3 linked regions of the Homo sapiens genome follow. The protein of the gene in region 1 interacts with the protein of each later gene in a biochemical or structural test. Each region holds a gene or a part of one and is shown on either strand. Other genes may lie near its edges.

Region 1 (3,702 bases):
CAACAAGCAGGATGTGGAGGTGAGCCCCACCCCTGCCTCCCGCAGCAGCTTCCCGAGTCCCCAGCCTCCCCCACAGCAAGGGGAGCAGGTGTGCACCCAGACACCCCAGGCCCAGTGACTGCCCAGGGGGTACAGAGCCATTCTCAAGGCCTGCCCTGCCCCCAGCAGCTTCCCAAGCCTGGTTCCTCTCCAGACCTGCTGCTGCCAGCCCTGGAGGTTCTCCCACCTCAGGGCAGGCGCCCAGAGGCCTCTTCCTGCTATGCAGGGCACCTCTCCCCAGGAGGGCGGCCGTGTCTCAGGAGTGTGTGGCCAAGCTGTGGGGACACCCAGGTGAAACTCAGAGCTCAAAGAAGTGATGCTGGGGCCCTGGTGGGAGTCAGCTCTGACCCTTACCTGTTCCTGCTACCCTTGGAGGTGGCATCTGTGCCAGCCCCACCCCCAGGGCAGCCCCTCAAGACCCCTCTGAGGTGCCACTGCCCCCGGGAGCACTGGCCACGCTGAGTTCTAGCTGTTCTCTTGGAGTGGCTTTGCACAGAAGCAGCCCGGCGTCCAGAGGGCCAGGTGAATCTTCACTTCCTGCCTTCTCTGGGGTGGCTCTGTTGCCCCCAGCCTGTAAGGCTGGCCTCCCCTACAATCTCAGCCGACAAGAGGGACATCTGGTACGGGGCAGGGGTCTCCCCTCGGAGGAAAAGGGGAGGGGAGGGCTGCTTTTTGAAGACTGGGCAGGTGGTTGTGAGCAGAAGCCACCATGACTGCAGACTGCCTCCATCACTGATGCAGGGCTCCCACCTCTCCATCATCCCCGGCTGTGTGGGCCCCTGGGACCTGCCTCCGCCACTGCCCAGGAGGCCTCAGTCCTCAGCGCCCCACCTCGGGGCTCAGGGTGTCCCCCAGGGAGGGGATGGGGGGTGGACTCCTTGGAGCCGTGTGGACGTCTAGTTTGTCTCAGGCACTACCAGCCATGTTCAGCCTCGGGCTGAGCACAGGGTCCTCACTGCTGTGGTCTCTGTGGGAGACACTGGGACCCTGGTGGAGCTCTGGCTGTTTCCCTGGGGTGAAGGGCATACGCCCTTCTGAGAGTCCCGGGCCCACAGGCAGGACAGGGCCAGACGTGGGGGCTGCTCCTCACGGCCTTACCTCCCCCAGACGTGCCTCTCAATCCCTGACATCAAGACGGCCTTCAGCGACTGCACCAGCAAGATCGGCAGGCGAGATTGCCTGACCCAGGCCTGCTCGGCCCTCACAGGGTGAGTGGGGGCTGCACCTGCGGGGGCTTTGGGGACCGAGACCCCCCGCCTCACACCCGCTGTCTTCACAGCAAAGGGGTGCGCGAGGGCATCGAGTGGATGGTGAAGTGTGTCGTGCGGAATGTGCACCGGCCGCCGCGGCAGAGGGACATCACGTAGGCGCAGCCGCGCTGCCGTCGGGACGGCTGGTCCCCTGGTGCTGGAGGAGTGGCCTCCTGTTGGCTCCCATGCTGCTGATCTGGGGGGTGGGTTTGCTTTGCTTTGGGGTTCTTCTATTTACTTTGTTTTCTCGAAGACAAACTTTCCTCTATGTCTGGAAAAGCGTAGGCATCCGGAGGCTTTGGAGGGGAGTCTGGCAGCCCGGCTGGCCCAGGCCCTGCAGCGGCAGCCTTTCCACAGGGCGCAGCGGCGGCCTTTCGAGGCCCTTTCTGGGGGGTCTGAGGGAGACCTGGTTGGGAATTGGGGCTCCAGTGCTCAGGCTGGCTTGGGCTGCATGAGGACAGCCCTGTGGGACCCTCGGGAGACCCCGTGGCTGTCTCCGCCCCATCGAGGAGGAGGCCCGTCAGCCATGGCTGCCATCTGGCTTCTGCCCTGTGACCCCGTGACCCCGTGACCCCGGAAGTGGTCTGGGGCTGATCTTGCCTTGAGGAAGACCCAGGCCATGTTCCCAAAGGCCAGCGGGGGCCCTGGATTGTGATGCAGCCTCGGGACAGGGCTGAGGCCTGCGGGGGAAGACCTATACCCCACGCCTGGGCCTGGCTTCACCTCACCCTAATCCCCCGGGAGGGAGCTGACTGATGCAAAAAGCTGAGGGGGCCTGCTGGGAGTGGCTGTTTTTATGCCCCAGCCCCGCAAGTTGGGGAGTGTTTGTGGGGGTCCAGAGCCCTCCCCCAGCCAGGAGAGAACCTCCCGGAGGGGTTCTCTGTGGGGCCCTGTGTCCCCTGCTCGGGAGTAAGGCTGGTCCTGGGGTCCTCCCTGCACGGACCCCACTGGGCCTGCCGAGTGCTGTGTTCTTCCTCAGTCTGGCTGTGGGCAGGAGCGGCCTGCCCAGTGTCACCCAGGGTGAGTGCAAAATAAAGACGGCGAGTGTGGCTCTGTCCATCCCTTCCCTCCTGGAGGGTGGAGGCTCCTGGCTGTTGGACACGGTGATGGTGTTACTGGGCTGCTCAGGGGCTGGTGGGCAGGTGAGGGGCTCCCCAGGTGGGCCTGGAGAGTCCAGGCACTCCCTTCCTGCGGATGTGGGAAGGACATGGGGTCCTGGGAGGAGCTGCTGGGAAGGGGCATGAGTCAGGGTGGGGGTGGCGCAGCAGCTGCGGGGCTGTGACTCACAGGAGTCGGGCCCTGGAAGTCCCCGCGTCCTCTCCAGGGGACCCTGTGTGTGTTCTGCAGGTTGGTTCCCAGGACCTGGGGGGGACCTCCAGCCCCGGGAACCTGGCCGTGCTGGGGAGGCGAGTGGCTGGTGCAGCCCCCCGGTTGCTCTGGGTGCATCGGGAGGCTTCAGAGCCTGCCCCAGAGAGGGAGAAGCTTCACTTCCCGGAAAGCATGGGAGGCCTGGAGGAGGTCTTTGGCAGGTCCCCTCTCGGGAAATCCCCTGTGAGTTGGGAGTGGGAGGAATTCATAAGTGGGGGGTTAGTGTGGGCCCCGGCGACTAGGGCTGGCCTGAGCCCCATCCTGTTCTTCCAGCAATGATACCCTCCCAGGCCCTGACCCTCGCTGAGCTTCAGGGGCCCCTGCCACGTGCCACAGCCACTGGGGGCAGAGGTGGCACTCCCCACTGATCCTCCCAGGGAGGGTCTGTCTGAGGTAGGGGAAGCCCCGGGCAGCAGTTCTGATGGCAGGCAGCCTGAGGGATCTGGGCACAGCGGGCGGCTCAGGTGTCCCCGGCTGCCCTCCCAGTAGCTGTGCAACTACAACCAGTTTTATGAAAAAGCTTTATAAAAATAAGCTTTAAGAAACCTCATTTCTTCTATTTAAAAAAAAGCCTCTTTCAGTGCAAGTGGGGTGCCAAGGATGTAGAATAAATAAGAGGGGGCCAGGATCAGTGCACAGGGAGGAAGCGCTCACGGACGCTCCGCTCCAGCCCGGGCATCCTGGCCACGCGCAGCGCCTGCAGCAGCCGCACCAGCAGCGCCCCGTCCTGCGCCCCCAGGAGCTCCGTGAGCCGCCGACGCAGCTTCAGCTGCAAGGCCGCGCGGCCCGCCCTTGGTGTCGGACCCCAGCCCTCCGGGGCCTCGAGGGCCTGCAGCAGCCGCTGCAGCCTCTTGATGGAGATGTCCTGGAAAGCCACAAAGTCGATGACGGCACGCTCACACTCCTCAGCTCCTGCAGTGGGGTGGGGAGGCAGCGGTCCGATCATTTCACCCACACACACTGGCGGGGGCTGCCAGGTACCCTGCTTTCTGGGCCCCACTCGGGGGGTTTGCAGGAGAGAGAAATCCCTGTGCAGTGAGCCGTG
Region 2 (2,590 bases), on another chromosome or scaffold:
ACAGCAGGAGAAACCCCGATCACTAGGCTCCATCATTCCCAGGGCTGGTGCTACACAGAGGGGGAGCCTCCCAGGGGAGACACTGGGGATCTTATCCCAGGATGTGCTCTGCAAGGTAAGTACCAACCAGTCTTTCAGGGAAAAGAAGGGCCTACAAAAGGACACTGTGAGTTACTCAGAGGAATGGCCTAGTCATTGCAGCCATCAGAAAGGTCCTCCATGTGGATCCTGGCTGGATGTATATGGGTACTTCCTAATTCTACTCTCCTTGGCAAAAATGTCTGAGTCAAAGGCTCAGATTTATATTGAAAATATTTATTAGAGGGCCAGCAAATTTTGCTCAAAATGAGATCTAAATTATCAAGAATTTGGATTTGGTGCAAAGACTATGGAAGCTAAAATGGGGTGAGGGGTGAAGTACCTACAAAAGGCAGTAATCCTTGCCCCTCAACCCAATACAGACGGAGCCCAGAGCTCAGAGAATCAGGCAGGGAGAAAAGGGGTGGGGACCCTGGAAGGCCAAGGAAACGAGACCCCTGAGGCAAAGAACTGGACTTAAGGCAGGGGATGAGGAGGAGCTGCCGGCTCTTCCCCAAAAGAGATGAGGCAACAGGTCTCTGGAGTCGAGAGAAGGCGGCAGGACAGGGGTGGCTGGTGACAAAAATAAAAACATTTGTCTAAGACCACAGGGGCTGGGTCAGGGTCTGCAAGCCACTATGTCTGTACAGGAGTCTACATACCATCCTTCACTGGGAAGAGCGGGGACGAAAGTGAGGGTAGGGTTAGGGAGCAGGAGTCAGTGATGGGGGTCTCTCCAAAACCTCAGGGATCTATTCAGCCCTCCTCCTCAGGGGCTGCCTAGGAAGACACATTGGAAGAAAGGTACCTTCCCCTAAGTCCCTGGAAAAGTGGTCACAGAGGGTTTCCACGTGGTTGCCTATGGTCACGTGACCATACAAACCAAAAACATTAGGTGGAGATTTCTGGGAAAAGGATGGGATCCTTCTTTGCTCTAAATATATGTGGAAGCAAATGCTCCTAGCAAGGAGATTTCTAACTCGGGCTGTGTGGCAGGAGTATCCCTGCCCTAGAACCCAGGGTTTGTTGTGGCTGGGGTGAGGGACAGGAGGGCCAGTTGCTGCCCTGGAGGAGTTTGGCACTGTGGCTCTCTGGAGTCATGTCCATGTGCCCCAGAGAAACCCTGTTGGGCCACTGAAGAGAAATGTTTTAAGAACTTGGATTTGTGAGTCGGGGCTCAGGAGGGGAAAGTACAATCAGCAGGGCCCTGTGCCCTTTCAGGAGAGACTGTAATCTGGGAAAAGACTAGGGAAAGAAGAGGGAGAGAGGCACTGATTCCTGCAGGGCCTAGAGTAATACAAAAGTTGTTGGTGAGGTGGGAGTCCTTCCCAGGTACTGTTGACAGCAGGATGGTCTCTCCAGGTTCACATGGGGTAAAATAAGGAAGAAGCGAGGAGAGAAGGTGGGGGTGCGTTAATTCAAGTAAAAAAAAAAGAGCAAGAAGAAGAAGGGTGGCAGGAATGTGGCTGGGCCTGAGAACCAAGCCCCCTCCCACCCCCTCAGGACCCCCCAGAGTTTCCCACTCCCCCTGCTGTTGCACAGTCACACTGAGGTCTCAGACTGCAGCCTCATGACAAACTTGTGTGACTTGGGATCCACAAATTCCTCGGAGAGTTTGAAGAATGGGACCTTCTTGGTGCTGACCACCAGGCTGAAGTCCTGGCGTTTTAAGAGGAAAACGATGCCATCCTTGAGGCCGTTGGTCACCGGCTCCTCGCTCACCAATGTCCACTGTTTGGCCAGCCAGCGTTCCTTGTGGTACTGGATGGTAGGTCCAGCCGCCAAGTATCGCTCCAAGAAGGCCTGAAGTGGAAAGAAGGGGCTGCATAAGAATCTCTGTCATCTACCCACGGTCCTTCATCCCCTAGGTCATAGTTTCCAAAGACAAGAAGGACGTCCCTGAGCTCACTCTATGCATATGAACTAGAACCTCAGAATGTTACAGCAGGAAGGGGCCTGAGATCATCTGCTTCAGACCCTCATTTTATAAATGAAGAAGCCGGAGTGCACAGGGGGATGTGGCTCATCAGGTAGGACTGAACTCGGCTCCCCTGACCCCCATCTGCTGCTCTTCTCCCTGCACCAGGCTGTGACCTGGGCAAGCCCTCCCTCATTCTTCCTTCCTTCCCACACAGCTTGTATGATTCGTGCCAAGCAGGTCTGCACCAGGAGGGAGCCAAAGGTGTCAAGGTTAAAGTGCAACATCTTTAGTTACCTGCTCACCAAGGGTGGCTCAGGGAAAGCAATTCTAGGAAGCTGGCAATAGAGTTGAAGGTGGGCAATGGCTCAAAATGACACAAAGCCAAGACCAGCTAGTGGAGGTGAAGAGGGTAATGGAGGTGAAAGTGGGCCTTTGGATCTGGTAATTCCGGAGCCCTCATAGAGATGAGAAATAAGTCTCAGCCATCCCCAAAATGGTCCTGAGGACTCCCTTCTCCTCATCTACCTAAAGACTTCACCCCACACAGATGGGGCAGGTGGAATAGGAATGAGAGAGAAGATTATAAAAAGG
Region 3 (3,787 bases), on another chromosome or scaffold:
TGTTTTTCTCTTGATTAATTCTCTGTCAGTTACCATAGAACAGCAAGGAAACGCAGACACCAGGAACGTGAGTGCATCCAAAGTACTCAGCCAGTGAATTTGGGAAGACTTGTAACTCATGAACTGCATCTGAAGTTGTGAGTCAGGAAGTAGTCTTTAGGTTATTATTATTTTTTAATCTGGAACTTAAAATGGTTTTCCGGTATCGAAAGCGCCAAGACGGAAGTGATTCTGCACATCCCTGAGGATCCATCCATACGGGTACTCAGGCTCACCCTGCATTTGTTTCTCAAGCAGGCATTACATTTGCTCGGACTTTCTTATAGGAGAGAATTCATGTTTCTCATCGACGATCTGATGCATTTTGTAGGAATGATCCTAAATACTATTTAATCAAGCAGAAATAATATACTCATGTAGTACAGGATTTCACTTTCTGAAATGTATACGCGTCAGTTAACTAAGGCGATCCAGTAGCAGTAAGCTGTTTTCCTTTGGACACCTTAACTGGGGTGTCAGACCTGTGTAGGCTGGGGAAAGCCACTTAGAGAAGTAGCTGCCTAAGGCCTAGAGCTATAGGGGCTCCAAGTGGGGCAGATAGAGAAGTGAGCTGGCTAGCTAATGAAATTAGGGAGCCATCTCTGGTGTGTGTCCCAGGCAGTCATGTGGCACAGACTGTGACTGGCGGATATCTGGGAGTGTGCGTTCTGGTGGCTGCAGGAAAGCCTTTGGTGAGGACTGGACTGAGGCCCAGGAAGCTGAGCATTCCCAGGAGTTTCACCCCTTGCTTCTGTGGGCACCTCTGACGCTGCCTCACCACTTACACTGGAAACCATGAAACAGGCCTTCCTTGTGGTATTTGTTTGGAAATACTGATCAAAGTAATCTTCCTGGATTTAGAAAAAAATGATTAGACAATCATTTTAGTTAAATAGGAATTTCTAGATACCTGGTCATAACCCTTCATTCTGGCTGAAATTAAATGGTGTTTCCCCCATGACTTTGTTTCCTAAGGCAGCTGTTGACAGGGGAGCCCAGATTATCTTACACCTGGAAGTTCTGATACTACTCACAGTTTTCAGGTGTTCCTTTCAAAAGGTCAAAACAGCCTGGATGCGATGACTCATGCCTATAATACCAGCATTTTGGGAGGCCAAGGTAGGAGGATTGCTTGAGGCCAGGAGTTTAAGACCAGCCTGGGTTACATAGCAAGACTCTGTCTCTACAAAATATTTTAAAAAGTAGCCAGTTGTGGTAGTATCTGCTTGTAGTCCTAGTTACTCAGGAGGCTGAGGCCGGAGGATCACTTGAGCTCAGGAGTTAAAGGTTGCGGTGAGCCACAGTCACACCACTGTACTCCAGCCTGGGTGACAGAGCAAGACCCTGCCTGTAACAAAAACAAAAACACAAAAAACACCAACCCTCAAAACACTTAGGAATATTTTCTTCCCTCCATGGATTTAGCTAGAGAACACATGTGTTCTTTAAGGCAATAACATTTTATGATTTTATTTCCGAGCAACTTTTTTGCTCTCGGAGATTATAAAATTACTATTGATATTGATGGCAGTGGTTCTTAAATTTGGGTGCATACCAGAATTACTGCAGGAGGTTTTAAAAATTCAAATTCCTAGGTTCTGCCCCTTGTACTTCTGAGTTACTCAGCCGGTCCAGGGCCTTGCTACTCAGACTCCACACATGGGATCATGTTAAACATACAGCAGAAGCACAGGCCCCTTCTCAGACATAGAGTCAGAATCTGTTTTGTTGAGGCCCCAGGTGACGTGTATGTATAAACGAGCGGAGCGTCTTCACGTCTGATATGCTCCCAAGGCTGCTGGTTGGTGGACCAGACTTTGAGAAGCTTGGTCTGTGAATCTGCATTTTTCATTCTGATACAGTCAAGAAAACTGCCTATTATTTAGCAACTTCTTAAAAAGTTAAATACAGATGTACCGTATGACCCAGCAGTGTCCACCCCTGGGTATCTACCCAAGGAAAATGAAAACGTGTCCACACAAAGACATATATGCAAATGCTGATAGCAGCCTTCTGCATAATTGTCCCAAACTGTAAACAGCCTAAGTGTCCATCATCTGGTGAATGGATAAACAGATGTGGTTTATCCATACCATGGAAGATGACCCAGCAGCAAGAAGGCATGTAGTACTGGCCCACGCTCCAGCACCATGACCTTGACAACATTATGCTAATGAAAGAAGCCAGATCTGAAAATCCACATCTTTTATGATTCTGTTTGTATGATATGTCCAGAATAGGCAAATCTGTGGAGACAGACAATAGATTAATAGTTGCCTGGGGATGGAGGTAGAAGTAAGGATTAACTGTAAAAAGGTGTGAGGAATTCTGTAGGGGAGATGAAAATGTTCTAAAACTGGATTATGGTGATGTTGCACAACTTAGTAAGTATACTAAAAATTCAAATATGTACCTACAGTAGGAGTATTATAAGTAAATTATACCCTGATAAAGTTTTTTTTTTTTTTTTTTTTTTTTGGAGACGGAGTCTCACTCTGTCACCCGGGCTAGAGTGCAGTGGTGGATCTCCACTCACTCCAACCTCCAACTCCCAAATTCAAGTGATTCTCCTGCTTCAGCCTCCCGAGTAGCTGGGATTACAGGTGCCCACCACCATGCCTGGCTAATTTTTGTATTTTTAGTAGAGACAGGGTTTCACCATGTTGGCTGGGCTGGTCTTGAACTCCTGACCTTGTGATCCACCCACCTCGGCCTCCCAAAGTGCTGGGATTACAGGCATGAGCCACTGTGCCCGGCCTACCCTGATAAAGTTTTTTTAAAAATCATGTTAAAAAAAGAAAACTGGCTGGGTACAGTGGCTTATGCCTGTAATCCCAGCACTTTGGGAGGCTGACGCAGGCAGATCATTTGAGCCCAAGAGTTTGAGACTAGCCTGGGCAACACAGTGAGCATGGTGGCATGCGCCTGTGGTCCCAGCTACTTGGGAGGCTGAGGTGGGAGGATCACTTGAGCCCAGGAGGCAGAGGTTGCAATGAGCCGAGATAGCACCACTGCACTTCAGCCTTCAGACAGAGAGAGACCCTGTCTCAAAAAAAAATAAAGAAAACCTCTGTTCCAGGGTAGAAGGAGCAAATGAGCTTGGAGCTTGGAGCCAGGTTCAGGCTTCAGGTTTCAGTTGGCCTTTCATAGTTCCACCAGATTATGCCTGTTGCTTTCCTGGATAAATCTTTCAAAAACCTGTGTAAATCAGTGGAAATCATATTAGTCTTTCAAGCCTTTCCGATGGCCTGAAGTACTAAAATGGCTGTGATGGTTGTTTTACAGGAAAAACATGCAGAGGAACAAACAGGTAGCCATGGGCAGGAAAAAATTTAATATGGACCCTAAAAAGGTAAGTGAGAAAGAAGCGGGAAGTGGTCCATATTAGATGGGGTTTTTTTATAGTGCTCAGATAGACCCTAAAAACGTTTTTTTCCAAGCGTTACAGTTCATGTTGCCGTTTTGTAGAGCAAATGTTATGCACTAAGCCCTTGTTCCTAAACTGTGACTCCCCGGCTTTATAGGTCACTTAGCAAGTATTTATTAAATATTCCAGTGCACCCACACCCATTTCTTCCTGTGCCCTTTCCCCTTCTTTTCAACTGTTTCCCAGCAAAGCATCATTGGCGTCTTTGTTGTCTTTTTCTAGGGGATCCAGTTCTTAATAGAGAACGACCTCCTGAAGAACACTTGTGAAGACATTGCCCAGTTCTTATATAAAGGCGAAGGGCTCAACAAGACAGCCATC

Evidence for each region. The genes of interacting proteins can lie anywhere in the genome.
Region 2: the proteins of ARFRP1 (region 1) and VANGL2 form a complex in vitro, tested with the Homo sapiens proteins (one study listed by BioGRID).
Region 3: the proteins of ARFRP1 (region 1) and CYTH1 form a complex in vitro, tested with the Homo sapiens proteins (one study listed by BioGRID).

The regions. Positions count from the first base shown.
Region 1 is NC_000020.11:63,698,147-63,701,848, reverse strand, and holds the end of ARFRP1 (ADP-ribosylation factor-related protein 1), read left to right. Parts: coding exon 1-19; intron 20-1,146; coding exon 1,147-1,247; coding exon of another isoform or gene 1,248-1,251; exon of another isoform or gene 1,252-1,318; coding exon 1,319-1,406; 3' UTR 1,407-3,202; downstream 3,203-3,702. Other genes in the region: TNFRSF6B (tumor necrosis factor receptor superfamily member 6B precursor), read right to left, coding at 3,286-3,569. UniProt on the Homo sapiens protein: Trans-Golgi-associated GTPase that regulates protein sorting. Controls the targeting of ARL1 and its effector to the trans-Golgi. Required for the lipidation of chylomicrons in the intestine and required for VLDL lipidation in the liver.
Region 2 is NC_000001.11:160,424,409-160,426,998, reverse strand, and holds part of VANGL2 (vang-like protein 2), read right to left. Parts: intron 1,882-2,590; coding exon 1,621-1,881; 3' UTR 1-1,620. UniProt on the Homo sapiens protein: Involved in the control of early morphogenesis and patterning of both axial midline structures and the development of neural plate. Plays a role in the regulation of planar cell polarity, particularly in the orientation of stereociliary bundles in the cochlea.
Region 3 is NC_000017.11:78,702,142-78,705,928, reverse strand, and holds part of CYTH1 (cytohesin-1), read left to right. Parts: intron 1-3,324; coding exon 3,325-3,391; intron 3,392-3,688; coding exon 3,689-3,787. UniProt on the Homo sapiens protein: Promotes guanine-nucleotide exchange on ARF1, ARF5 and ARF6. Promotes the activation of ARF factors through replacement of GDP with GTP.